7 linked regions of the Homo sapiens genome follow. The protein of the gene in region 5 interacts with the protein of the main gene of each other region in a biochemical or structural test. Each region holds a gene or a part of one and is shown on either strand. Other genes may lie near its edges.

Region 1 (3,500 bases), on a different chromosome or scaffold from region 5:
GTGGTTTAAGGAGCACTCATACTGATATGTAAGACCTTCTTCTGCCCTGACTCTGTGCCCTCTCTTGTCAGCAGTTGTGAAATGGAGCTGACACCTCCTGATTTCTAGGGTGGTCATTTGGCTCAAAAGCGGGGTGGGGAAGTGCTTAGGTGTTGACAAGTTTGGTTGTCCTGGTGGTATGACAGGAACCAGGTTGGTGTTTGGCCTTTTATGTTGCAGATACTGACATAAATGAATAAAATGCAGTTATGTAGAGTTCCAGCTGAGTGCTATTGAGACCTTTCGTCCCATTTTACAGATGAGCAAATGGAAATGGAGAATCGTTTGTGCCCAAGGTGTTGTGTCAGTGTGTGCCAGGGCCTCAGCTGGGGCCAGCTCACTAGTCAGAGGCTGACTAGCAACCCCAAGCCCATGTTCCCTGTGGTCCACGTGGCTCCTCTGTGAGACACCTTTGTGCTCAGACCATGCATTACAGGGCAAAGACCACTTTGGCTTTTGTATCCCAAGACAGCCTCAGCCTCTCTAGGCTCTGGCTCCACACTTTTTCTTCTGGTGTTTTCTGAGTTGAGATGGTTCAGACTCGTGTTTAATGAGGTTGTCCATTTGAGGGTCTTTGTGGGCCCAGTAAACACTGGTGTAGACACTGTGGAGGTACTCTGAATACTGGCTGAGCATGTCCATGGGGACTTCTGAGGCCCCAGGCTTCTGTCTTTGGCTGATCCTTCACTAGATACTTTTCTAGATGCCAGGCCCTCTGAGGTGAAGGAGTATGGGTGCTTGCTTTTAGGGAAATGAAAACAGGCAATGACAATTGTGAGCAGTACCTTTGATGAAGAGGGTGAGGGTGGCGGAAGAAAACAGCTAACTGCCTTGATGAGGCAGGCGGGCTCAGAAGGGAGGTAGTAGTGGAACCAGCTGGCTGGGGCTTGACCCCTGTGGCTGGGGAGCAGACCACACCAGGAGGCCTGCTCCGAGGGCTAGGCCCACAGCACGGGAGAGGGCAAGGCCCAGGCCGGTGTCATCAAGGGTTTTCTTTGTACTGGCTGTTACTCCCAGTGGGAGAGGGGCAGGAGCACATGTCCGGATCTCCAGAGCTAGCCATCCCTGCCTGTGTATTTCCTGTCTGATGTAGTTTTTTCCAAGGGAAGTCAGACCTTTTAGTGTTTCCTCAGCACCCCAGGCTTGCCCCGATGTGTGGGTTTCCAGGCCCCCCCGCCCAGCTGGGATCCTCTGTTTCCTGTGAACCTAGGAAAAGGGCCTGCTTCACAGATAACTGGAGGAGCTGAGCACACCCAGTCCTGGGACCCACAACACCTCCAGCTTCTCTCCAGACTCTTGTGTGTGTGTGTACACAGATGCACAGGATTCAGTTGGAGTTTAGAGATCTTGGCTACCAGCTTTGCTCTGGGTAGCTTCTTGGAATGAGGCACATTTATTAATATTTGCAATAAGTATTATTATACCTCCCCATTTGCCCAGTGCTAGGCACCAAGGATTCAAAAGTTTATTGAGACATGGTTTGTGCCATTGATGAACTCTTGGAAAAGACAGATGTAGAGGCATATGATTATAACCCTGTGTGTTACATACCATAATATAAAGGCCTCTACCAAGAACTGTGAGGAGCTCTGCCAGGAAGGCATTAAAGGAGAGGTGACCTTTGAGGTAGGCCTTGAATTACTGAGGCACCTGTCTGTGCCGAGGCTAAGGAACTGGGAATCACTCTGTGCAGGGGTAGGGAACAGATATGGTGTGGTAGAGAGGAAGCTGGGACTGGTTGGAGACAGCTATAGCCCTAGTGTGCCATGTCCAGCAGATTACACTCAGTCCTGGAGGCGACGGGAGTCAGCGGAGGCTGTTGTGGGACTGACTTGCCTCTGCCTGGGAGACCACAGTGGCAGTGGTTTGTCAGGCAGGTGTTGGGGAGGGAGGCCAGTGAGCTCCTACGGTTTGCACAGTTTGCAGGAGAGAGCTGCTGAGGGCCCAGACAAGACCTTCTTGCTGAGGCAGGGTGGGGATGCCATGGTGGTAGATGGGAGAAGGGCTGGGTCTTGAGGGGTGAGACAGAGCTTAGTAGTTAAGCATTTGGGCCCTAGACTCTGCTTGAATTAAAATCCTGTTGTGCAGCTTACTTGCTCTGTGACCTTAAAGCATATGACTACCTCTCTGGGCTGCTTATCTGTAAAAAGGATAGTATTAAATGGCATTTATTTTATAAGGTTTTTGTGAGGATTTGATGAGAACCTGTATAAAGTGCTTAGCACCTGTATAAAGTGCTTAGCATGGAGTGTGGCACAGTGTAAGTGCTTACTACGTAGGATCCCTGACAGGACAGAGATGAGGATTAAGTTCTCAGGAGGACCTGGTGGGGAGGAGTTCGAATGCACCTGCTGTCCTAAGGGGCTGGTGCCTGGCCACCAAGCCCTTTGATTCAGAGGCAAGGAGGCCCGCCCATCCTCTCTTGCAGCTCTCAGCAGTCCCTCTATTGTCAGGGCTCTTTCCCACTGCTGGTTTTGCAGGGAGACAGGGCAGTTGGCTGGAAGCAGCTGCTTTGGGTGGTAACCCCTTCTGTAGAGTGAAGGTATGATATTGTCCTATTTCTAAGTGCCTAGCCCAGGACGCTATCTGGAGAGATCTTGTCTTTGAGGAAGTGCTCTAATGCCACAGCCTCGATGTGGTAGGGCCTGCCTCTGCTGTCACTGTTCTGTGTCAGTCTCCGTTAACTCACAGCATCTCTTCTTACTCTGTGCCTTTTCCTGTGGGATGTGGCTTCAAGGAGACCACAGATGATAAGTTGGAGGAAGGGAGTGAGGCCTGAGATTGCAAAGGTGTGATATTAGGAGACTGATTTTTCCCCCTTTCCACTTGCTTTGTTAGAACTAGAGAAGTCACTGCAGACTGTGAGGAGAGTCCTAGGAGAGATGGGTGTGGGATAGGAGGATGGGAATGTTCTGGTGCCCCTTGTAGAGTGCCTTGTTGAGAGGAGCATGGGAACAGTGCGTCCTTGGAGGGAATCTCTGAGAGCAGCATGTTTACAGGTGGCAAGACTCAAGGTGGAGCCACGGGTGAGGAGTGGCTTCAGGCTACCATTGACCAGATAGTCCCACCTTGCTGGTAATTGAGCTGAAGTGCCTGGAGATTTGTGGCTAGAGCTGGTCAGATTTGGGTTCAGGTCTCAGCTCTTACTGTGACCTTGGGCAGATTACTTTTCCCTGTCTGAAATTGATCTTTAGCTGTAAAAGTAATTTCTCCTCACAGAGCTGTATATTAATAATAAGGGAGATTATATATAAGAGTAAGAGATTTTATGTGAAAACTACCCAGCACAACATTTGTCACTTAGTGGCCACTTAACAGTATTCATTTCCTTTACTCTCACCTTTGTTAACCACAGAGCTCCAATCTTTTCCACCACTAAGCTCGGCCACAAGTGGCTGCTCCAACAACCTGGGCTAGGAGTCTGTTTCCTACTTGCTTTCTGTGTTCCTTCCCTGAGTCTG
Region 2 (3,500 bases), on a different chromosome or scaffold from region 5:
GTCTTGTGGAGAAGTACTATTATCATCCCCATTCTGCAGACAAGGAAATTTGAGGTTCAGAGTGGGAAAGTCTGGGAAGATTGCTCAGGGGTAACCAGGTGATAGGAGCAGAACTTGAGCGTTTTATAAAAGACACTTAACTGCCCATCTGCTTGCTTGATGAAATGTAATGGCTTGGTTAAGTATTTAGTGCATGGGTCTTTTTTGGGAATTTGGAGCTCAAGCCCTTGTTGGATTTTTGCATAATGTATCTGTTGTGGTTTTATTAGCTTACTTCCTCCTCCCTTTTTCTAACTCTTATTTTTCACCCTATTTTAGGTTCCATACCCCATGAAGTGCCTCAGATATTAATTAATAGAGAACCTTTGCCTCATCTGCATTTTGATGTAGAGCTTCTTGGAGACTGTGATGTCATAATTAATGAATTGTGTCATAGGTTAGGTGGTGAATATGCCAAACTTTGCTGTAACCCTGTAAAGCTTTCAGAAATTACTGAAAAACCTCCACGAACACAAAAAGAATTGGCTTATTTGTCAGAGTTGCCACCCACACCTCTTCATGTTTCAGAAGACTCAAGTTCACCAGAAAGAACTTCACCACCAGATTCTTCAGTGATTGTCACACTTTTAGACCAAGCAGCTAAGAGTAATGATGATTTAGATGTGTCTGAATCAAAAGGTTGTATGGAAGAAAAACCACAGGAAGTACAAACTTCTAGGAATGTTGAAAGTATTGCTGAACAGATGGAAAATCCGGATTTGAAGAATGTTGGTTCTAGTACTGGGGAGAAAAATGAAAGAACTTCAGTGGCTGGAACAGTGAGAAAATGCTGGCCTAATAGAGTGGCAAAGGAGCAGATTAGTAGGCGGCTTGATGGTAAGAAAGGCAGTCGGACCATTTTGAAAGTATAAATGTCATAACAGTATTTCCAAAAAATTAGCTATTTCGGCAGGTTAATCGATAGGGTAGCTTTATGTAGTTGATTCTGTTTAGAGAAACTGTACAGTTCGTAATCAGAAAGGTAAATCTTCTGGTATCTTAACATGATATGGAGAAGGAAGTGTTTAATAGTGCTCTGTATGTTGTGTTTCTCTAGGGGATGGAAAAATAAGAATGGGTTATTAGCTGGCAGAAATGATGACAGATTTGAGTGCTTACTGTAGGTCAGCTGCTTTACATATGTTACCTGATTTTAATCTGAGGTAGGAACTATTACTCTTCTTCAGGTGGGAAAACTCAGGACCATAGAGGTTAAATACCTCATGCACAGTAACTACTAAGAAGTGGAAGAACCAGATTAAAATCCAGTCTATTTATGCTTAGAGCCTGCCCCCTTAACTACTATGCGGTGTTGTCTCAGATGTAGAACACATCTTTGTTTTCTCTGAGGACTTAGAAAAAACACGCGTGATTCTTCTCCACTGAATATAGGAATAGTTTCTACCCTGTTTAGAACATGCATAGTCTTTATCAATAAGTGTTAACTGACATGTGAAATCACTTTCTACTCTTTGGAAGCCGATGTTTTAAGTCCAAGTAGTCTGTATGGTGGAAATTCCTAACTTATGTTAAAAAAAAGAAAACCACTGTAACTTAGCTATAACAGTCTTATATAACTTAGAACTTTAAGTCTCATTCCATTTACCATACTTGGCGAAAACTGACAAATTTTAGACAACTGTATTTGAGTATTCCAGTCATTTGCTGTAAATACATTTTAGTTCAGTTGAATAAACCTTTGGCCTTTTTCATATTAGGCACTGTGGTAAGTTATGGAGACACAGTGATTAATGTTGTGTATAATTATAAATGTGAGTGATACTCATTAATACTTTGGTATAGGTGCTGCTGAAGAACAAAGTACTTTATTATTGTTTTGAACAAAACATCACACAAAAGGTAGATTTTTTTTTTTTTTTTTTTTTTTTTTTTTTGTGACGGAGTCTCACTCTGTCGCCCAGGCTGGAGTGCAGTGGCACGATCTCAGCTCACTGCAACCTCTGCGTCCCAGGTTCAAGAGATTCTCCTGCCTCAGCCTTCTGAGTAGCTGAAATTACAGGCATGCGCCACCTTGCTCGGCTGATTCTTGTATTTTTAGTAGAGACGGGGTTTCGCCATGTTGGTCAGGCTGGTCTCAAACTCCTGACCCCATGATCCATCCACCTCGGCCTCCCAAAGTGCTGGAATTACAGGCGTGAGCCACGGCGCCCAGCCCCAAAAGGTAGATTCTACTTGGAGATTAGATTACAGAAGGCTTTCTAAGGAGCAAAATATTTAACAATAAGTAGGGATTTAAAAAGAGCAGACGTGTTCACAGGGGAAACTAGAAAAAGCATAGAGGGATGCTTACGTTTGCAAATCGTGGCAGAAGTCAGAAAGTAGAAAAATTGCTACTGACTTAGATACACAGTTGTCTCTAGCGTATACAAAGTCTACCTATGCACTAAGACTTGCACTGGGAACTTTTCTTGAATGTCATTTTGACAGATGTGTCAAACGGACAATCTCTTTGCCCAGGAAACAGAGTTAACCTGGAACAGTCATTTTTTTTTAAATTTATTTATTTTTTGAGACGGAGTTTTGCTCTTGTTGTCCAGGCTGAAGTACAATGGTGTGATCTCGGTTCACGGCAACCTCCGCCTCCCGGGTTCAAGCGATTCTCCTGCCTCACTCTCCAGAGTAGCTGTAGCTGAGACCACAGGCGCATGCCCTCATGCTCAGCTATTTTTTTTTTTTTTTTTTTTAGTTTTTGTAGAAACAAGGTCTTGCCACATTGCCCAGGCTGATACCAAACTCCTGGGCTCAAGCAGTCTGCCAGCCTTGGCCTCCCAAAGTGCTGGGATTACAGGTGTAAGCCACTGTGCCCTGCCTGTGGTGTCTTGGGAAACTCATGAGTACTATGTGTCTGTTGTAATAGAGGGAAATAAGTGGTTTTCACAGTGATTTGTAGTGGACTGTGAAATTTTAGGGATTCAGGTCAGAGTTGTCACACAGGTTGTAGTCAGGGTGAGAACTGGGTCATGATGCAGTATGAAAAAGTTCGAGAGCCACTTTGGAGAGAACTTGAGATAGGCCACCTACCAGTGTGGTAACCAGGCTTTTGAGAATTCGTCTGGGATACGGTACAATAAATACTACATCTATTATGTGTGAAGAGATGTTAAGTTAGGGACATACTGTGAATTCAAGGATAGAAAACTTTTCCATCAGTTTTTAGGGATCCTACTCTTTCACTTAAACCCCAAATGGCCAAGCTAGGATTGATTTGGTGTGCTGTAGAAAGAACTTCATTGGTATTCATGGATTCACATTACATCTTAGAGGAGTTTTCAAAAGCGTCTTAGACTGTATGTGTATATACACACACATTCTGAAGCAGTAGGTGGGTCTTGGGGCCTGAGATCTCGGGTGAATGTAAATTTAGGTTCACAGGTGATACTGTAGATTCACAGTGTCTACAGAGTACACTATGAATTTGTGGTGACTACATTATTGACAAA
Region 3 (3,500 bases), on a different chromosome or scaffold from region 5:
TGCAGGGGCTCTCAACTGTAATCCCAGCTCTTAGAGCAGCAGAGGTGGGAGGATAGCTTGAACCCAGGAGTTTGAGACCTGCTGGGCAATATAGCGAGACCCCATTCTCCACAAAAAGGAAAAACAAAAAAAGACAAGTAAACAAAGATCCTGATAGGATGACCAGCATAAAGTAGGTGCTGAATAAATAGAGACTGTTTATCATTATTATTATTATTATTATTTGAGACGGAGTCTCACTCTGTCACCCAGGCTGGAGTGCAGTGGTACGATCTTGGCTCACTGCAACCTCAATCTCCTGGGTTGAAGCCATTCTCCTGCCTCAGCCACCTGAGTAGCTGGGATTACAGGTGCCCACCACCGTGGCTAAGTTCTGTATTTTTTAGTAGGGACGGGTTGTCATCATATTGGCCAGGCTGGTTTCAAACTCCTGACCTCAGGTGATCTGCCCGCCTTGGCCTCCCAAAGTGGTGGGATTACAGGCGCGAGCCACCACGTCTGGCCGAGGCTGTTTATTATTATTATTTGTTAATTATTTATACCTATGTTTTCTTTTAAAATTTTACAGTTTTAATTCCTTTTTTTAAATTTTTGTTTGTTTGTTTGTTTGTTTATTTTGAGACAGGATCTCACTCTGTCATCCAGGCTGGAGTGCAGTGGCACAATCTCAGCTCACTTCAGCCTCTGCCTCCCAGGCTCAAGCAATTCTCCCACTTCAGCCTCCTGAGTAGCTGGGACCACAGATGTGCACCACCACTCCCAGCTAACTTTTTGTATTCTTGGTGGAGATGGGGTTTCATCATGTTGCAGTCTGGTCTCAAACTCCTGAGCTCAAGCAATACATCCATCTTGGCTTCCCAAAGTGTTAGGATTACAGGCATAAGCCACAGTGCCTGGCCTAGTTTTAGCTCTTATGTTTAATTAAGGTCCTTTATTCATTTTAAGTTTTATTTATTTATTTATTGAGACGGAGCCTTGCTCTGTCACCAGGCTGGATTGCAATGTCATGATCTCGGCTCACCGCAACCTCCTCCTCCCGGTTTCAAGCGATTCTCCTGCCTCAGCCTCCCAAGTAGCTGGGATTACATGCTTATGCCACCATGCCTGGCTAATTTTTGTATTTTTAGTAGAGATGGGGTTTCACCATGTTGGCCAGGCTGGTCTCGAACTCCTGCCCTCGGGTGATCCACCCGCCTCGGCCTCCCAAAGTGCTGGGATTACAGGCATGAGCCACCGTGGCTGGCCTAACTTTTTTATTTTTATTTTTTGTAGAGACAGAGTCTGGCCATGTTACCCAATCTGATCTTGAACTCCTGCTGTCATCTGATCCTCCTGCCTCAGCCTCCCAAAGTGCTGGGATAAGAGGTGTGAGGCACCATCCCCGGCCAGTTTGCAGTCTAAGTATGATGTTAGCTGTGGGTCTTTCCCTTTCCCTTTCTCTTTCCCTTTTCCTTTTCCTTTCCCCTTTCCCCTTTCTTTTTTCCTTTCCTTTCCTTTCCCTTCTGCTTTCCTTTCCCTTCCGCTTTCCTTTCCTTTCCCTTCCGCTTTCCTTTCCTCCCCTCCCCTCCTCTCCTCTCCTCTTTTCTTTCCTCTTCTCTCTCCTCTTCTCTCTTCCTCTCTCCTTTCTCCTCTGATATCTGAAGACTAAGCTGTGGATGTTTCATAAAAGTTCTTTCTGGGGTGGGTGCAGTGGCTCATGCCTGTAATCCAAGCACTTTGGGAGGCTGAGGTGGGCGGATCACAAGGTCAGGAGATCGAGACCATCCTGGCCAACATGGTGAAACCCCGTCTCTACTAAAAATACAAAAACAAAATTAGCCGGGCGTGGTGGCAGGAGCCTGTAGTTCCAGCTAGTTGGTGATAGAGTGAGACTCTGACTCAAAAGAAAAAAAAAATGCTTTCTGGCTGGTTGCTCTGACTCTTTCACCCTATAATCTCAGTGCTTTGGGAGCCTATGGCAGGAGAAGTGCTTAAGGCCACGAGTTGGAGACTGCAGCAAGCTATGATTGCAGGCCACAGAGCAAGACTTTGCCTCTAAATTAAAAATAAATAGATAATAAATAAAATAAAAGCTCTTTATTAGGTTGAAGGAGTTTACTCCTATTCCTAGTTTTCTGAGTATTTTTTGTTATAAAAGGGTGTTGCATTTTGCCAAAATTTTTTTCTGTGTCTATTTTCCTATATTCTATTGTTATCGTGTATTATATTAATTGGTTTTCAGATGTTAAACCAACCAAGCTTTCCTGGGTTAATTCTTTTTTTTTTTTTTTTTTTTTTTTTGAGATGGAGTCTCGCTGTCGCCCAGGCTGGAGTGCAGTGGCGTGATCTCGGCTCACTGCAGGGTCTGCCCCCTGGGGTTCACGCCATTCTCTTGCCTCAGCCTCCCGAGTAGCTGGGACTACAGGCGCCCGCCACCTCGCCCGGCTAATTTTTTGTATTTTTAGTAGAGACGGGGTTTCACCGTGTTAGCCAGGATGGTCTCCATCTCCTGACCTCGTGATCGCCCGCCTCGGCCTCCCAAAGTGCTGGGAATACAGATGTGAGCCACCGCGCCTGGCGTCCTGGGTTAATTCTTGTTTGGTCATTTGTAATCTTTTTTATGTGTTGCTGGATTTAGTTTGCTACTGTTTTGTTGAGGATTTTTATATCTATATTCACAAGGGATATTGGTTTGTGGTTTTACTGTGATGTCTCTGTCTGGTTTTGGTATGCTGGCCTCATAGATGAGTTGACAGTGTTCCGTTCCGAATTTCTTCGAAAAGTTTGAGAATAATTGGTATTAGTTCTTTACATATTTGATAGAATTTAAAATGAAGCCAGCCGTGTGTTTCTTTTTTCTTTTTTTTGAGACAGGGTCTCACTCTTACCCACGCTGGAGTGTTACCCACTATCACGTTTCACTGCAGGCTTGACCTCCCAGGCTCAACTCCTACCTCAGCCTCCTGAGTAGCTGGGACCTCAGGCATGTGCCACCATGTGTGGCTAATTTTTTTATTTTGATAGAGATGGGGTGTCCCTATGTTGCTCAAGCTAAAGTGAGGCAATCTGGGACTGCACTTTTCTTTGTAGGGATATTTTGATTACTCATTCAGTCTTTTGTTTTGTTTTGTTTTTTTGGAGACAGAGTCTCTCTCTCTGTCACCCAGGCTGGAGTGCAGTGGCACAATATTGGCTCACTGCAGCCTCTGCCTCACAGGTTCAAACGATTCTTGTGCCTCAGCCTCCAGAGTAGCTGGGACTACAGGGGCGCGCCACCACACCTGGCTAAATTTTTTTTTGTTTTGTTTTTAGTAGAGACGGGATTTTGCCATGTTGCACAGGCTGGTCTCAATCTCCTGAAGTCAAGCAATCCGCCTGCCTTGGCCTCCCAATGTGCTAGGATTATCATTCAGTCTTTTCACTTCTTATGGGTATATTCAGATTTTCTGTTTCTTCTTGTGTTAGTTTTGGTAGTTTGTATCTTTCTAGGAGTTTGTCCATTTCACCTATGTCATCTAATA
Region 4 (3,290 bases), on a different chromosome or scaffold from region 5:
TCGTCAGGATTTGTGCGTCCTTGACTCTGCCCCACCCAGTGCTCCCAGCAGGGGCAGGTGCAGGAAGCTCACTAGGTGGAGATGTTGGAATTGGTTTTTCTTGCAGACAAAGACCTGCGGACCAAGGGCTTCAGCCTAGAGTCGTGCCGCAGCATGGTGAACCTCATGGATGTATCCTTCCGTTTGCTTTTGTCTCCTGAGTGGGGTTTTGGGTGGAGGTATCGGTGCTGGGAGAACTGTCCCAGGACAGCACAGAGAACAGGACAGAGCCATGCGGAGTGTGGACACACAGTGCCCCATGCTCAGATGTCTCCCTGGACGTCTTCCTGTTGGTTGGGAGGGAGAAACTGAGGCACAGACCTGTGTCAAGTGAAAGGTGGAGCAAGACCTGGGTCCCCATTGACCCTGAGGCTGGTGCTATTTCTGACCCCTCCCCAGCCCACTCCACTGCAGCCCAGCTCAGAGAATAAGGCAAGCCCGGCTGTGGGCTGACTGTACATGGCTTTTGCTGCTTCTCCTCACCCAGCCCCAAGTCGACTTGCCGGCTCGGCGGCCATCTCCCCTTCTGCACAGTTGCCCACTCTCCCATGACTGGTCTAAGTGATGGAATTTCCTTCTTAACGGCCACCCAGCGTGATGGCAATGGGAAGCTGGGCCTGGTGGAGTTCAACATCCTGTGGAACCGCATCCGGAATTACCTGGTAGGTTGTCCCCACTCACCTCAGTCATGCAGGTGCGGGCCGGGCAGGTGGGAAGGGCCGGGTGACTCAGCCTGGCCCTCACCCTCTGCCGCCACCTCAGTCCATCTTCCGGAAGTTTGACCTGGACAAGTCGGGCAGCATGAGTGCCTACGAGATGCGGATGGCCATTGAGTCGGCAGGTGAGACTCCAAGGCTGACGGCACCTGTGGGGCCCAGGACAGGTAGCCCCACTGCTCCTATGCCCCAGGCCCTTGTCCCTGGGGTGCTAGTGGTGACATGGTAACAGCCATCTTGTCCTTTTCCCCACGGTTACTAGCACCCTGCCTAGCCCCAGCCCCCTCCTGGGGACCCAACCCCTCCCCCATCCTGTTGGGCAGGGGCTGCGCCTCACTGACCTTCACTCACTCTCCTGGACCAGGCTTCAAGCTCAACAAGAAGCTGTACGAGCTCATCATCACCCGCTACTCGGAGCCCGACCTGGCGGTCGACTTTGACAATTTCGTTTGCTGCCTGGTGCGGCTAGAGACCATGTTCCGTGAGTGTCCCCAACTGCCTCCCACCCTCCAGCTCCGTCCCAAACGCGTCCCCCAGGAGCTGGGGGGAATGACAGATGGGTGAATTAGCAGATACAGGCCAGTGCTGTGGGTGTGTGCCAGAGAGGCCTGGGTCTGGGTTTGGGGGGCCCTGGCTGAGTGCCAGGAGAGTCGGGGAGGGAGGGAGTTGACAGTGGCTTCTCAGGCAGCAGGAAGGGGTGAAGCTTCCCAGCTTCAAGGGGTGTCAGCTTGCGGTACTGTGGGGAGGTAGAGAGGGACCAGGCAGGAAGGGGGCCAGGCCTGGCCCTGCGTGAATATCCCACTGAGTTTTCAGCCCTGTATCACCTTTTCTTGAACACACAGGATTTTTCAAAACTCTGGACACAGATCTGGATGGAGTTGTGACCTTTGACTTGTTTAAGGTGGGAACCTCCCTGGGCCCATGGTTGGGGAAGAGTTCCAGGCGATCGAATTTTCTTATCTGGCCAGTGTTCCCTGTCCTTTCCTGGAAATGAGCCTGGGCCTCAGAGCCAACCCTGAAGCCCGGGCCACCTGAATCCTGAAAGGCTGGGGTGGGGGTGTCTGGATTCTGGGAAAGGAGCAGGAGGGGAGGTCCAGGCCCTTGGAGGCCCCTATGGGAGCAGCACTCTGGTTTCCCAGGGGTGGAGGAGGTAAGAAAGTAACCCCTCCATGAGGTTCCTGAGGTGGCTCCTGAGACGTGGAGTTGGGGGCTGGACCTGGGGTTTGGGTGGGGAAGAAGCCAGGGAGCCATTTCTGCGGCCCCAGCTGACCTGCCTGTTCTCCCGCAGTGGTTGCAGCTGACCATGTTTGCATGAGGCAGGGACTCGGTCCCCCTTGCCGTGCTCCCCTCCCTCCTCGTCTGCCAAGCCTCGCCTCCTACCACACCACACCAGGCCACCCCAGCTGCAAGTGCCTTCCTTGGAGCAGAGAGGCAGCCTCGTCCTCCTGTCCCCTCTCCTCCCAGCCACCATCGTTCATCTGCTCCGGGCAGAACTGTGTGGCCCCTGCCTGTGCCAGCCATGGGCTCGGGATGGACTCCCTGGGCCCCACCCATTGCCAAGCCAGGAAGGCAGCTTTCGCTTGTTCCTGCCTCGGGACAGCCCCGGGTTTCCCCAGCATCCTGATGTGTCCCCTCTCCCCACTTCAGAGGCCACCCACTCAGCACCACCGGCCTGGCCTTGCCTGCAGACTATAAACTATAACCACTAGCTCGACACAGTCTGCAGTCCAGGCGTGTGGAGCCGCCTCCCGGCTCGGGGAGGCCCCGGGGCTGGGAACGCCTGTGCCTTCCTGCGCCGAAGCCAACGCCCCCTCTGTCCTTCCCTGGCCCTGCTGCCGACCAGGAGCTGCCCAGCCTGTGGGCGGTCGGCCTTCCCTCCTTCGCTCCTTTTTTATATTAGTGATTTTAAAGGGGACTCTTCAGGGACTTGTGTACTGGTTATGGGGGTGCCAGAGGCACTAGGCTTGGGGTGGGGAGGTCCCGTGTTCCATATAGAGGAACCCCAAATAATAAAAGGCCCCACATCTGTCTGTGATGTGTTTCTCCCCAGCCTACTGCCTGGAGGGCACCTGCAGGCCCCGGCCCATGGGGGCAGCTCGTGGCCTCAGCTCACCCCTCCCCTCCAACCCCTCCATCTCCTTCCCCTTGACCTTGAAGCTTGAACCCCTACTGGAGTACTGGGTATCTGGGCAAGACCACCCCTGGCCCTGGGAGGTTGGGAAGGAGGGGCCCTAGCTGCAGGGACAGGGCCACACAGCTGAGGTCCCACATGGCTCTGCTGATCCTACATGCCCTCCCCGCCGCCCAGGAGGCCTGACCCCTACCTTTCTTGCACACTTCGGCCCGTTGAGGTGAGGCTCTGGCTGAAATTCAAACCTCTACTTAGCACACACCCGGCCCCCCAGAGAGCTCCCCCGAGCACAGAGCCGCCTTCAGGTCCCTCTGTGGGGAGCCCCTGTGACCCAGACACCTGCACTTACATAAGCCGCTCCAGGGCCTGCTGGGATCTGGGATTTTCTTACCAGAGATAAGAGT
Region 5 (3,500 bases):
GAAAAGTCGGCAACTACCCAGCTCCCCTGCACCAAACTGGGCAGAAGTGGATCCTCTGAAAATTGCACACACCCATGTTTAAATGTACACACAGAACTCTTGCCACAGGCAAGCGGAGATTTGTCATCTGCTGTCCCTGCCTCATCTTCTTCCTGAAATCCACTCCATGCCAGGAATAAACTGCATGCTCTCCACCAGCCCAAACTGACCTGCCTTCCCGCCAGCCATCCCGGGCAGGGTGACCTGGCTTAGTACATCGGGTTCAGAGATCTTTCCAGTTTACTCGTTGAATAAAAAGTGAGGGCTGATCGAGAAAGTAATGGCAGTCAGGGAAGGCGAAGGAGGTAAAGAAGAGATTTTACAAATGAAGTAATTCAACAGAGTGCTGACATTGGTAAACTGGCAAACAGATTTCAGGGTGGTTGGTTGAGAGTAGAGTAGAAAAGGATTAAATAAAGCAAACTTGTGGTGTACTGAATCTTAGGAATTCCATGTATCCAATAAGTATAGTCATTTATGAATTAATAAATTCGGCCTAAGAAGCCTTCTTATCGCTTAAATCAAGACTAAGTAACAATATATCAGTTTTAAAAAGTCATTATATCAGAAAATCATTTAAATGATACACATAGATTTCCAAGATTTTACTTTAACCGAAACTATATAAATGTGAATTTGTTCACCCATCTTTTGACACAGGGCTCAGGTCTTCTCTTGGTGTCTGGATCAGCCAGTTGAAATTTCTTGTCTGTTTTGCCTATGCCACATTAATAATGCACTGTCTGGGTCCTCCGATTTCAGTTTGGATTTTGGGTTTACATTGTGGAGTCATCTGAATGCAGAATCCTTCAGGGATTTTACTTTTTTTTTTTTTTTTCATGGTCTTTACCATCCCATTTGATAGTAAATATTACTCACCTTTATGAAGTCTTTCCAAAACATTCAACTAAATTTTCTTAAAATCATTGAATGATTTGAAGAGCTTATTCCTCAGCACTTTTACTCCATCAGCTTGCACCTTATTTTTTAATCTTTTTTTGAGACGGAGTCTCGCTCTATCGCCCAGGCTTAAGTGCAATGGCGCGATCTTGGCTCACTGCGACCTCCACCTCCTGGGTTCAAGCAATTCCGCCTCAGCCTCCGCCGTAGCCGGGACTACAGGTACACACCATAATGCTCGGCTGATTTTTGTATTTTTGTAGGGATGGGGTATCGCCATGTTGGCCAGGCTGGTCCCGAACTTCTGACCCAAGTGATCCACCCACCTCGGCCTCCCAAAGTGCTGGGATTACAGGTGTGAGCCACCGCGCCCGGCCAGCTTGCACCTTATTTAGGATATGTGATTATTATAGCAAGTCTGGTGTACATACAAGATTTTGAATGGGCACAGATGACCTTTAGTAAGTGCTTGGCTGTGATAAGAGGCAGTCCTGACTGCAGATCAGGCTGTGTGGACCCCAGCCTTGCATGTTTACAGACCTTCATGTCTTATTCTTACAGGGTATCAGAAGAACACCTACTGGGGAAACTTATAAATTAGTAAAAGGTGGGCATTCTCCCCGCCCATCTTCTGTCTGTCTGCCAGGACTAGCACAGCACTTTGAAGTCATTCACATAGAATCCCAACTTAAGAGGGTAAAATCCTCCTCAACAGACTGAAAATAAGTTTAAATTCCCTTTGCTATATTAACTCCCCTGAGGAAAGAGTCTTAGATCAATGTCCAACACTAAAAACAGTTTTAAATCAGCAAGTGAGAATTAAATCTGAAGCAATTGATAATAATGTTTCATTCATTCCTCTCCTTTGGCCCCGTCCACCCTACTGCTAAATCCAGGCATCAAAGAGAAGAGGGACATAATTATCTCTAGTCCCAGCTGCTGGTTTTCCTTCCAGCCTATGGCCCAGTTTTCTGTTTTACTGAGAAGGCTGGTGATGTTATCTTGGGATCTAAGTCTGCAGTTTCACCACAAAAAGTCCAGGGATGCACTTTCATGCTTGTGTCCTCCTCCCTGGGATAGCAAGGATATTAGAAGACCCCTGGCTCTGTAATTGCTTGTCATGTGCTCTACAGACGCCACAGAATGCCAAGAACGAAGTGCTGGGAAGGACAAATTCATGGAACCGTGGGACGGTGCTCCTCCCCCAGCGTAAAGGACAGCTCCTCCTCCTGAATTGGAGCCAGCGTTCTAAATCATGTGTCAACAGAGTTGTCCTGGATCGGATCCAGTTCTGCCATTGATTTGCAGGTCATTTCAGTGGTACCTGTTTCCAGTTGTTCTTAATTGAACAGTGGCACCAAACTATTGTCTTGCCTCATCCCCCTCCCATGGCCTGTCCCCCAAAAAGAGACTTCTTGGGTAATTAATCAGGGCAACATCAGGCAGTCTGGGCGCGGTGGCTCACGCCTGTAATCCCAGCACTTTGGGAGGCCGAGGCGGGCAGATCATGAGGTTAGGAGATTGAGACCATCCTGGCTTTGTGAAACCCCGTCTCTACTAAAAATACAAAAAATTAGCCGGGCGTGGTGGCGGGCGCCTGTAGTCCCAGCTACTCGAGAGGCTGAGGCAGGGGAATGGCGTGAACCCGGGAGGTGGAGGTTGCAGTGAGCCGAGATCGCACCACTGCACTCTAGCCTGGGCGACAGAGCTAGACTTCTTCTCAAAAAAAAAAAAAAAAAGGAATCTCTTTGGTTTTATATATATTTTTTTTATATATATAATATATATTAAAATATAATATATATATTTATATAATATAATATATAAATATATTATATATTATATATTTTATATATTATATATTATATATATTATATATTATATATTTATATATTTATATATTATATATATTTATATATTATATATTTATATATATTATATATTTATATATAATATATATTATATATTATATATTATATATTATATATTATATATTTATATATATTATATATTATATATATTATATATTATATATTTATATATTATATATTTATATATATTATATATTATATATTATATATTTATATATTATATATTTATATATTATATATATTTATATATATTATATATTATATATTATATATGTATATATTATATATGTTATATATTATATATATTTATATATATAATATATTGTATATATTATATATCTAATATATTATATATATTATATATATTATATATTATAATATATATTATATATTATATATTATATATATTTTTATATATATAATATGTATAATATATAATATATATAAAAACATATATAATATATATTATATATTATATATATATTATATATATTATATATATTAAATATATTTTATATATATTATATATATATACACATATATATATATAAATGAGGCCAGGCTCGGTGGCTCACACTTGTAATCCCAGCACTGTGGGAGGATCACTTGAAGCCAGGAGTCTGAGACTAGCCTGGGCAACAAAACAAGATCCTGTCTCTACAAAAGGAAACTGTAAAAATTAGCTGGGCA
Region 6 (3,500 bases), on a different chromosome or scaffold from region 5:
CCTTCTCTGAGGCTTTCCCTTTCCTCTCATAGCAACAGAAATGCCCTCCTCTGCTCTACGTGGCCCCATCCTCTAGGGCCCACATCAGCCACCACCTCCAGGAAGCCTTCCCTGACTGCTCTGCCCTCCTGCCATGGCCAGCAGCCCTCGCTGCATTCTTCTCACAGTATCTGCGGCCATACCTCCCTCCTCCTTATCTCTCTTGTCAGCATGTGAGCCCCATGGAATGGGGTCGGAGGGGGGCAGCCTGGACCCTGTGAGCTCTGACAAGCCCAGCACAGCGCCAAGCACACAGTAGGTGCTCCAGGAATGTTAGCTGAAGCTTGTGACAGATGCCAAGAGGCCACTGGGGACCAGTCATTCCACACTGACTTGTTGTTTGTGTACTGGCACCAGCTCTGTGCAGGGCACTGTGTTAGGTGGTGCAGGCCCAGCCCCTGCTCTCATGGGGTTTAGAGTATACTGCAAGAGAATAACATGAACAAGTATATGTAAACCGCAACTTCAAACTGTTCTAGATTAAAGGAACCTGAAGACACAATGCATAGAGGCAATGTGCGACTGCACTAGATCCTGGACTAGCAAGCGCAATTGCCATGGTAAATGTGCGTATGGGTCGTATTACATGTCCCAAATTTGATAGCTGAACTCTGGTTACTTAAGCAAATGCTCTTGTTCTTAGGAGATACATGAAGAATTTAGGGGTAAACAGGGATAATGGCTCCAGCTTACTCTCAAATGGTTCAGAAAATATGCATATCAATAAACAGTCAGTGAGAAAACGTGGGGCCAGTGAGCCTGGGGGAAGGGTATGTAGGAATTCTCTGTGCTACTGTTGCAACTTTCACAAAGTTTGAATTATTTCAAGATAAAAAGTGTTTTTTTTTTTTTAATTCAACCTAAAATTGTACAAAATAGAGATGAACAGGTAGGCCTGGTTTGATCTAGGAGGGAACAGCGCCTGAAAATGTCCTGTGTCTGGTAGATGGAGGGCATGGTGCATGCAAGTAGCCGGGGCTCCTAGGACCCAGACCTAGGGGGCTCGTGACGGCCTGGGGGCGCGCACGATGTGAGCCTGGGGGAGCACCTTTCTCGATGAGCTGGCGCCAACGCTTGGCCCAGTCGGTGAGCTGCTGCCCGTACGCCTTCTCGATCTTGGCGCGCTCCTGCACGCAGTTCATCAGGTCGTTGCATAGACGGTGGCCGTCATCGATGCGCTTCACGGTCCGCTTGTAGTTCCCCACCTGGCGGCCAAGCAGCGAGCACCACTCCCGCGGGTTCCCAGCGTCCCCAGCCCCGCCCGCCGCATCCAGCACGGCCACGCCCACTGTCTTCCGCCCCGCCTCCCCGCTTACGGCCTCGCCGTCCCCGCCCCCGCCCCCGCCCCCCGCCCCGCGGCGCAGCGGCAACACCCCAGGGAAACTAACTTTCGGAGGCTCCAGCACCCTGCCTCAGGCCCCGCCGTCTACACGCACCCTCACCCCAATTTAAACATGATTTCCTTGCTGCCACAAAATGCAGAAGGATTTTTAGAATTTGGACTTGGGCTGGAATGAATTATTCATTTTGTTTTTGCGAGTTAAATCTATTATATTTATATAGAGTCATATAAGCGTTGAGTTGAGCTGCAGCTTCTTGACATAATATTATGTTTTGTCGACATCTCATTAAACGCTTATTAATTTAGGTTTGGCAGTTTTCGTCTTGGGTTTCCGGAGCCAATAGCAATTTTTTTTCTCCAGGTCTCAAATATTTCCGAAGGTTCTGAAAATGCTGGCTTCTGGCTGTGCCTCCCGCTCTGCGGCCCCGTGGGGCTCTGGGAGCTCACTCCCTCTCTCTGTGTCCGGCGCTCCACCCCTGCCCACCTCAGGATGGGGGGCGAGCGAGGGAAATAGGAACAGCTGAGAAAGGCTGTGCTGTACCTGCCTGATGGAAGTGCCACAGAGTCACAAAGGGCCTGTTCCCACATTGTGAAATGCCACAGGCTCTCTCTGGGGGCAGCTGTGGGGAGAGAGGAGCTCCTGGCTCAGTGGGCAGTGCTCTTAGCCACTTCATGGCTACCGCTGCCTGTTGGACACCCAGGGCTTTGGAGGGGCCTGGGGGACTGCGGAGTGGGGCCTGAGGTCATGGGGTGAGTGATAAGGGAGCCTGGCCTCCAAACAGCCAGGCTGTCTGGTCCCCGAACCTGGGGATCATGAGAGCCTCACCTCCCAGAAGCTGTCGGTGGTCTCCTCTGGCGCCAGTGAGGCCTCATCGTAGGAGCTGGACATGGTGTAGCCGCAGGGGGATGGACAAGTGCGGAGCTGCGGTTAGCAGGCTCGGCTGCTCATGCACTGGGAGGGCAGGAGAGAGATCCCTGGAGATGAGGGAAGGGCCTTCCACCCTTTGCCCCATTCCAGGCCTGGGTCCCCAAACCGATGGGACCCAGGGAGGCTTGCATTAGGATGCCATCTTCCTGTCCAGAGACTAACTCACCAGACTTAGGTAACCCCAAGAGTCGCCCTGTAGCACCCTCATGCCCAACTCCCCATCCCTCCTCCTTCCCCCTCCCTGGAATCCATCCTCTATCCAGTATGAGCACCTCCGTTCAGAAGCCAGCCCCAGCCCCCAGAGCTGGCTCTCTCTCCTGGACTGTTGGAGCCCAGGCTCAGCGCCTCCTCAGTTATCTGAGCCCCGGGACCCTGTAAATGCCCTTCTGTCTGCCCTTGCTCCCAACCTCAGCAGCCCCCATTAGCTTCTTACAAGTCTCCTGAGAGTCCCAAATGTGTGGTGTCCTGGCCCACAGGTCACACCACCGAGATCTATGGGAGCGTCTGGGGTGGCTGTGTCTGCCCTGGATCTGTCGGCAGGCATCAGGGTTATCCAATCTAGGCCGTGCGCTGCCCCAGGGCCGAGGTGGGTACTCCCCTCCTCCCTTCCCCCAGCCAGGCCTCACTGTTACCCCAGGCAAGAATGGCTCAGTAGTCAGGAGCCAGGACTCAGAGGGCCAAGGGCCTGGTTTTCAAAGAGGCAGCAGAGTCCAGGCTGCGCCTGGCCCTGATACAAGCTGCCAGCCTCTAGCTGGATCCCGGCACCAGGGGACACCTCCCTGCTTCTGCACTGCAGTCCCAGGACTGTGAACCCTGACAGTGTGGATGCTCAGGGAAGGCTGGCCTCTGTAAGATTCAGCCCAACCTGGGGGTCCAGCAGTTGGCTCTCAGGCTCAGGGCAGGGGCAATAACACGTAAGAATGGTTGGTGGAGGATGTCCCTCCCCCTAGGGCTCCCCATCTGTCCAGGGCCTGGGGCTCTTTCCCAGTAATAACCCAGTATTGCCTCTTGCACCCCTCAGGCATCTAAACATATTTTGTTCCCTCCCTTTTAGAAGAACCACAGACAGACTTTCCCATAAACTCACGCACAGTGCGGGTGGGTGAGAGGGAGGACGGCTGGATTTCATCAAGGGACAAAGAAATGAGTCTGAATTTTTCTTTTCTTAACTTGGCACTTTTCACTTATAAA
Region 7 (3,500 bases), on a different chromosome or scaffold from region 5:
TTTACAGCCCCAGAGATCCACTGAGAGAAATATGAATGGCTAGGACATGTGACAAGCCAGGGCTATGATTCAGTCAGTGTTGTAGGCCAGATCTTGGACAATTATCTGCTCAGCTGCGAAATCGTGCCGAGTTGAACTAAGAATATCAAACGTTATTTTAGGCTTCTGCTATCCCATGATATAAAAAGCATTGTGGCTGAGAAAGTTCTGAGCATCCATCCAGAAACATCTTCCATGGAACAATCAGTAAATAATGTGCTTGAAAGATTAAATGTATTCTCTCTACAAAATGTTATTTTAGTATCCTCATGATTTCAGACTTATTTCTAGTTGTCAGCACTTGGTTGCCAAAAATAAGTTACTGTCCTAAAAATACAGTATATTTGCAAATTAATGCTATAATTTTGTCTTCTTAAAATCTGATATAAATAAAAACTGTACAGATAGATACTATAGATTTTGTTCTTATTATTGAGAGTCATGAAATTTTAAATTGATATCTCAATATAAGTAAATAAATAGTGATTAGCAAATTTAGCAACCACCACATAGGCCTGAGATGTAACGTCTGCACCACATCAGAAGCCAAGTGCTCACTGAGTTATACGAGAATCCAAATGCTAAGCAGACTGATCTACAGTTGTATATTTAAGGAGATATGTTTAAATAATGCAAATTTCCTAGGCAAGATACAGGAAAGAACAGAAATGAGAGTAGTTACTTTAGCATTTCAATAAGAAATATGCAATAAGAGGTTTGAAACATGAAAAACAGCCAAGAGCCAGTGGTACAAATGAAACTACATGGAATAAAGTCTTGATGAATCTGCAGCCGACTCTGCAGAAATTTTTAGCTAATTGTATCTCTGCTAAGCTTTCAGAAGGAAAACAAAACATAAGAAAACAAGTTTATAATATTAGAGGCTTTCTTAAAACAGTATACTTTTAGTGTCCTGCAAATCAGAACCTGGTTTAAAATGATGCCTCTAGGTACTACATTAGCCTTAGCATCCAAAGAAAGAGCTATGCTGACTGCGCATTTCTTATTAAGGCAGGAAAGAGGCATAATGCATTGTAGATTTTTCTTAACAGGATTGAAATTAAAAATGACTTTCTGGTTAAAGTTATTAACTAGAATTAAATTAACCAAAACACTACTTGTGCATCCTAGATAATTAAGACTATGTTTTAAACAGGACTGTTTTCTTCATAATCTTACAGGCGTTAAATCCTAATAACTTTCTTCTTTTTAAACTTATAAACATATTGATCTAAGCATGAGTAGAGTTAACCTTCATGAAATAATTTCCTCCAAAGAATGCATTTGTTTTGTAATGCTTTGTTTCTATTCCAACGTTCCTTGGTTATTCTGACTTGTTTGAGAGGAATGTACAGATGATTTTTATTTTGCCGCAGGGCTGTCAATGCTTTTGGTTCACTTAGATCAATGGCAAACTTGCTTAAGGGATAGGTGGAATTCAGCAGTTACTGAGGCATGAAACATTCACTGTCTCCCATCCTCCATCAGCTTGATCTTGCTAATTTCCCTTCATCCTGCTGTGCTGCTTCTGTGGCCCTTCCTGCCCTTGTGTAGGTGTTTGTTTCGTCCGTCTGATCTTGTGTCTGTGTTGTCCAGTTCTCCCTGCAGTTTCTTCCTGTGTGTCTGTTTGTAGATGAAGGGGCTGAGGATCAAGTGGGTCCTCTACACAGGTTCCCCAGCCATGAACCTGCCACCAGCGGGGAGAGGCGTGGACTCCTAGCCCCCTCCATCTCAGTGTCTGTGCCTGATGATGACCCTTACAATTCCGATGAGGAGTACTATGAGCATCCTTTGTTCAGCTCAGAACGGACCACCTCTAGTGTGCTCCCCAGTGTCACAGCGCAGAGTGCAGAGGCCCACTTAGGCCAGGAGAAAGGTGAACCAAGCATGGTCCCCTTTTGCTCCTCCGCCCCGGCCTACAGCTTTGACCACCTACATCATGTTAAGTGTGCCTTAATACAGGGTGGGAGGGGCAGGAGCCTGTTTTCTCTGCATGAAAGTGAAGTTCCTATATAAGTTGAATCTATCCAAATGCCTTAACAATTTATATAAAAGAAGCCTTACTAGAGGCATGTGAGCACTTCCTTTTTCTGTATCATTGCTTCTGAGAAGGAAGAAAAAGAGAGAGAGAAAGAGAGAGAGAAGCAAAAAAATATTCCATTAAAGTATGGCTTCTTTCTGCTCCCTGCCAATAATCAGCTGGGGAAGAACATATTCTTTACCCAAACCAAAGAAGATGACTCTGAATATAATTTTTTTCCTCCTTAGACACATAATATTACTATTAAATAGCATCTTTAAATAGCATCTTTAAATAGCATTAGCTTTCTTTTTAGTGCTATATTAATATGATAGATCTTTAAAAGAGAAAGAATGAAGAATCTGTTTAGAGCAGAATAAATGTTATGGAAACAATTTATTTCCCCATATCATGTAATCATCTACAGAAACTACAGAGGCTTCCCCAGGTGACTAAATCTTGGCTCACATCAGTAGAGCTGGACTAAAATGAAGGAAATGATTCAAAGCCTTTGTCATTCTAGCCTTATAAAGCTGGGAGACTCAAGTGTATAATTGGTTATCGTGAGGATAAAATAAGTAGGTGATGGGCTGCAATGTGTCTCATTCTAACTAGGTAGTTTTGGTAAAGAAAAAAAAGGTACAGCTAAATATATTTTTGCTTAGGCGAAGAGTTTATTTCCAAAAGGGACAATATTTAATATGAAAGCAGATAGTTCTAAAGCAATAAGGAATAAGCTTACAGCTCACCAACTATGGTCATCATAATAAACGTCTTCAAGGACCCTTTTGAAAACAGAACACCAATAGCTCAGGTTCTCTGATAAAGAAATATAACCCCTATTAAGTGAAACTAAGTTCTTCTAAACTAAATTTCTAAAATATGTGAGTTTTTAAATTAGGAACAATTGTAGTGGAAATAAATATGATTTATACTAAATGAGAAAATGAAAAGCTAAAAAGCTACATGGATTTGAAAACATGTAAATTAACTTGATTAGACTTTATCCAAAAAGGTAACATTATAATGCAGTTATATTAAAATTCTTTTAACTGTAATCAAAATCTATGGCATTATAAAAATTTTCTTAAAATAACAAGTTAGAATTTAAATTTTTAAAATGCTACTTAAAATGCCATAATTAAATTACAAAACTAAAAATGAGTGCTAAATGTGAAGAGATTGATAATGTAGATTTTTTTTTCTCTCTCTGTTTCTCTCTGAGGATATTAATATTTCTAAAAAACAAAATAAAAGAAAATTCCTTTTCTTTTTATCTGTAGTCTTTCCCTCAGGGCCGTTTAAACAATGCACAATTATTTCATAAGAATTTTGTAAGAATCTTCCATTTACAAAACTATAAAACAGCTCATATATTTCTCTCTAATTCCTTAAGTGACCAAATGGAATTTACTTATTTTTACTGACATTTCAAGTGTAA

The links.
Region 1: the proteins of MAPT (region 5) and PLCG1 interact in a test that uses a peptide from one of them, tested with the Homo sapiens proteins (one study listed by BioGRID).
Region 2: the proteins of MAPT (region 5) and SIRT1 form a complex in vitro, tested with the Homo sapiens proteins (one study listed by BioGRID).
Region 3: of the proteins of MAPT (region 5) and CHEK2, one has a biochemical effect on the other in vitro, tested with the Homo sapiens proteins (one study listed by BioGRID).
Region 4: of the proteins of MAPT (region 5) and CAPN1, one has a biochemical effect on the other in vitro, tested with the Homo sapiens proteins (one study listed by BioGRID).
Region 6: the proteins of MAPT (region 5) and PACSIN1 form a complex in vitro, tested with the Homo sapiens proteins (one study listed by BioGRID).
Region 7: the proteins of MAPT (region 5) and MAP2 form a complex in vitro, tested with the Homo sapiens proteins (one study listed by BioGRID).

The regions. Positions count from the first base shown.
Region 1 is NC_000020.11:41,140,543-41,144,042, forward strand, and holds part of PLCG1 (1-phosphatidylinositol 4,5-bisphosphate phosphodiesterase gamma-1), read left to right. Parts: intron 1-3,500. UniProt on the Homo sapiens protein: Mediates the production of the second messenger molecules diacylglycerol (DAG) and inositol 1,4,5-trisphosphate (IP3). Plays an important role in the regulation of intracellular signaling cascades.
Region 2 is NC_000010.11:67,912,156-67,915,655, forward strand, and holds part of SIRT1 (NAD-dependent protein deacetylase sirtuin-1), read left to right. Parts: intron 1-318; coding exon 319-876; intron 877-3,500. UniProt on the Homo sapiens protein: NAD-dependent protein deacetylase that links transcriptional regulation directly to intracellular energetics and participates in the coordination of several separated cellular functions such as cell cycle, response to DNA damage, metabolism, apoptosis and autophagy.
Region 3 is NC_000022.11:28,728,321-28,731,820, reverse strand, and holds part of CHEK2 (serine/threonine-protein kinase Chk2), read left to right. Parts: intron 1-1,272; coding exon of another isoform or gene 1,273-1,401; intron 1,402-3,500. UniProt on the Homo sapiens protein: Serine/threonine-protein kinase which is required for checkpoint-mediated cell cycle arrest, activation of DNA repair and apoptosis in response to the presence of DNA double-strand breaks.
Region 4 is NC_000011.10:65,209,217-65,212,506, forward strand, and holds the end of CAPN1 (calpain-1 catalytic subunit), read left to right. Parts: intron 1-106; coding exon 107-171; intron 172-632; coding exon 633-701; intron 702-801; coding exon 802-880; intron 881-1,119; coding exon 1,120-1,236; intron 1,237-1,597; coding exon 1,598-1,656; intron 1,657-2,043; coding exon 2,044-2,070; 3' UTR 2,071-2,790; downstream 2,791-3,290. UniProt on the Homo sapiens protein: Calcium-regulated non-lysosomal thiol-protease which catalyzes limited proteolysis of substrates involved in cytoskeletal remodeling and signal transduction. Proteolytically cleaves CTBP1 at 'Asn-375', 'Gly-387' and 'His-409'.
Region 5 is NC_000017.11:45,901,054-45,904,553, forward strand, and holds part of MAPT (microtubule-associated protein tau), read left to right. Parts: intron 1-3,500. UniProt on the Homo sapiens protein: Promotes microtubule assembly and stability, and might be involved in the establishment and maintenance of neuronal polarity.
Region 6 is NC_000006.12:34,525,076-34,528,575, reverse strand, and holds part of PACSIN1 (protein kinase C and casein kinase substrate in neurons protein 1), read right to left. Parts: intron 2,334-3,500; 5' UTR 2,271-2,333; coding exon 2,208-2,270; intron 1,245-2,207; coding exon 1,088-1,244; intron 1-1,087. UniProt on the Homo sapiens protein: Plays a role in the reorganization of the microtubule cytoskeleton via its interaction with MAPT; this decreases microtubule stability and inhibits MAPT-induced microtubule polymerization.
Region 7 is NC_000002.12:209,686,047-209,689,546, forward strand, and holds part of MAP2 (microtubule-associated protein 2), read left to right. Parts: intron 1-3,500. UniProt on the Homo sapiens protein: The exact function of MAP2 is unknown but MAPs may stabilize the microtubules against depolymerization. They also seem to have a stiffening effect on microtubules.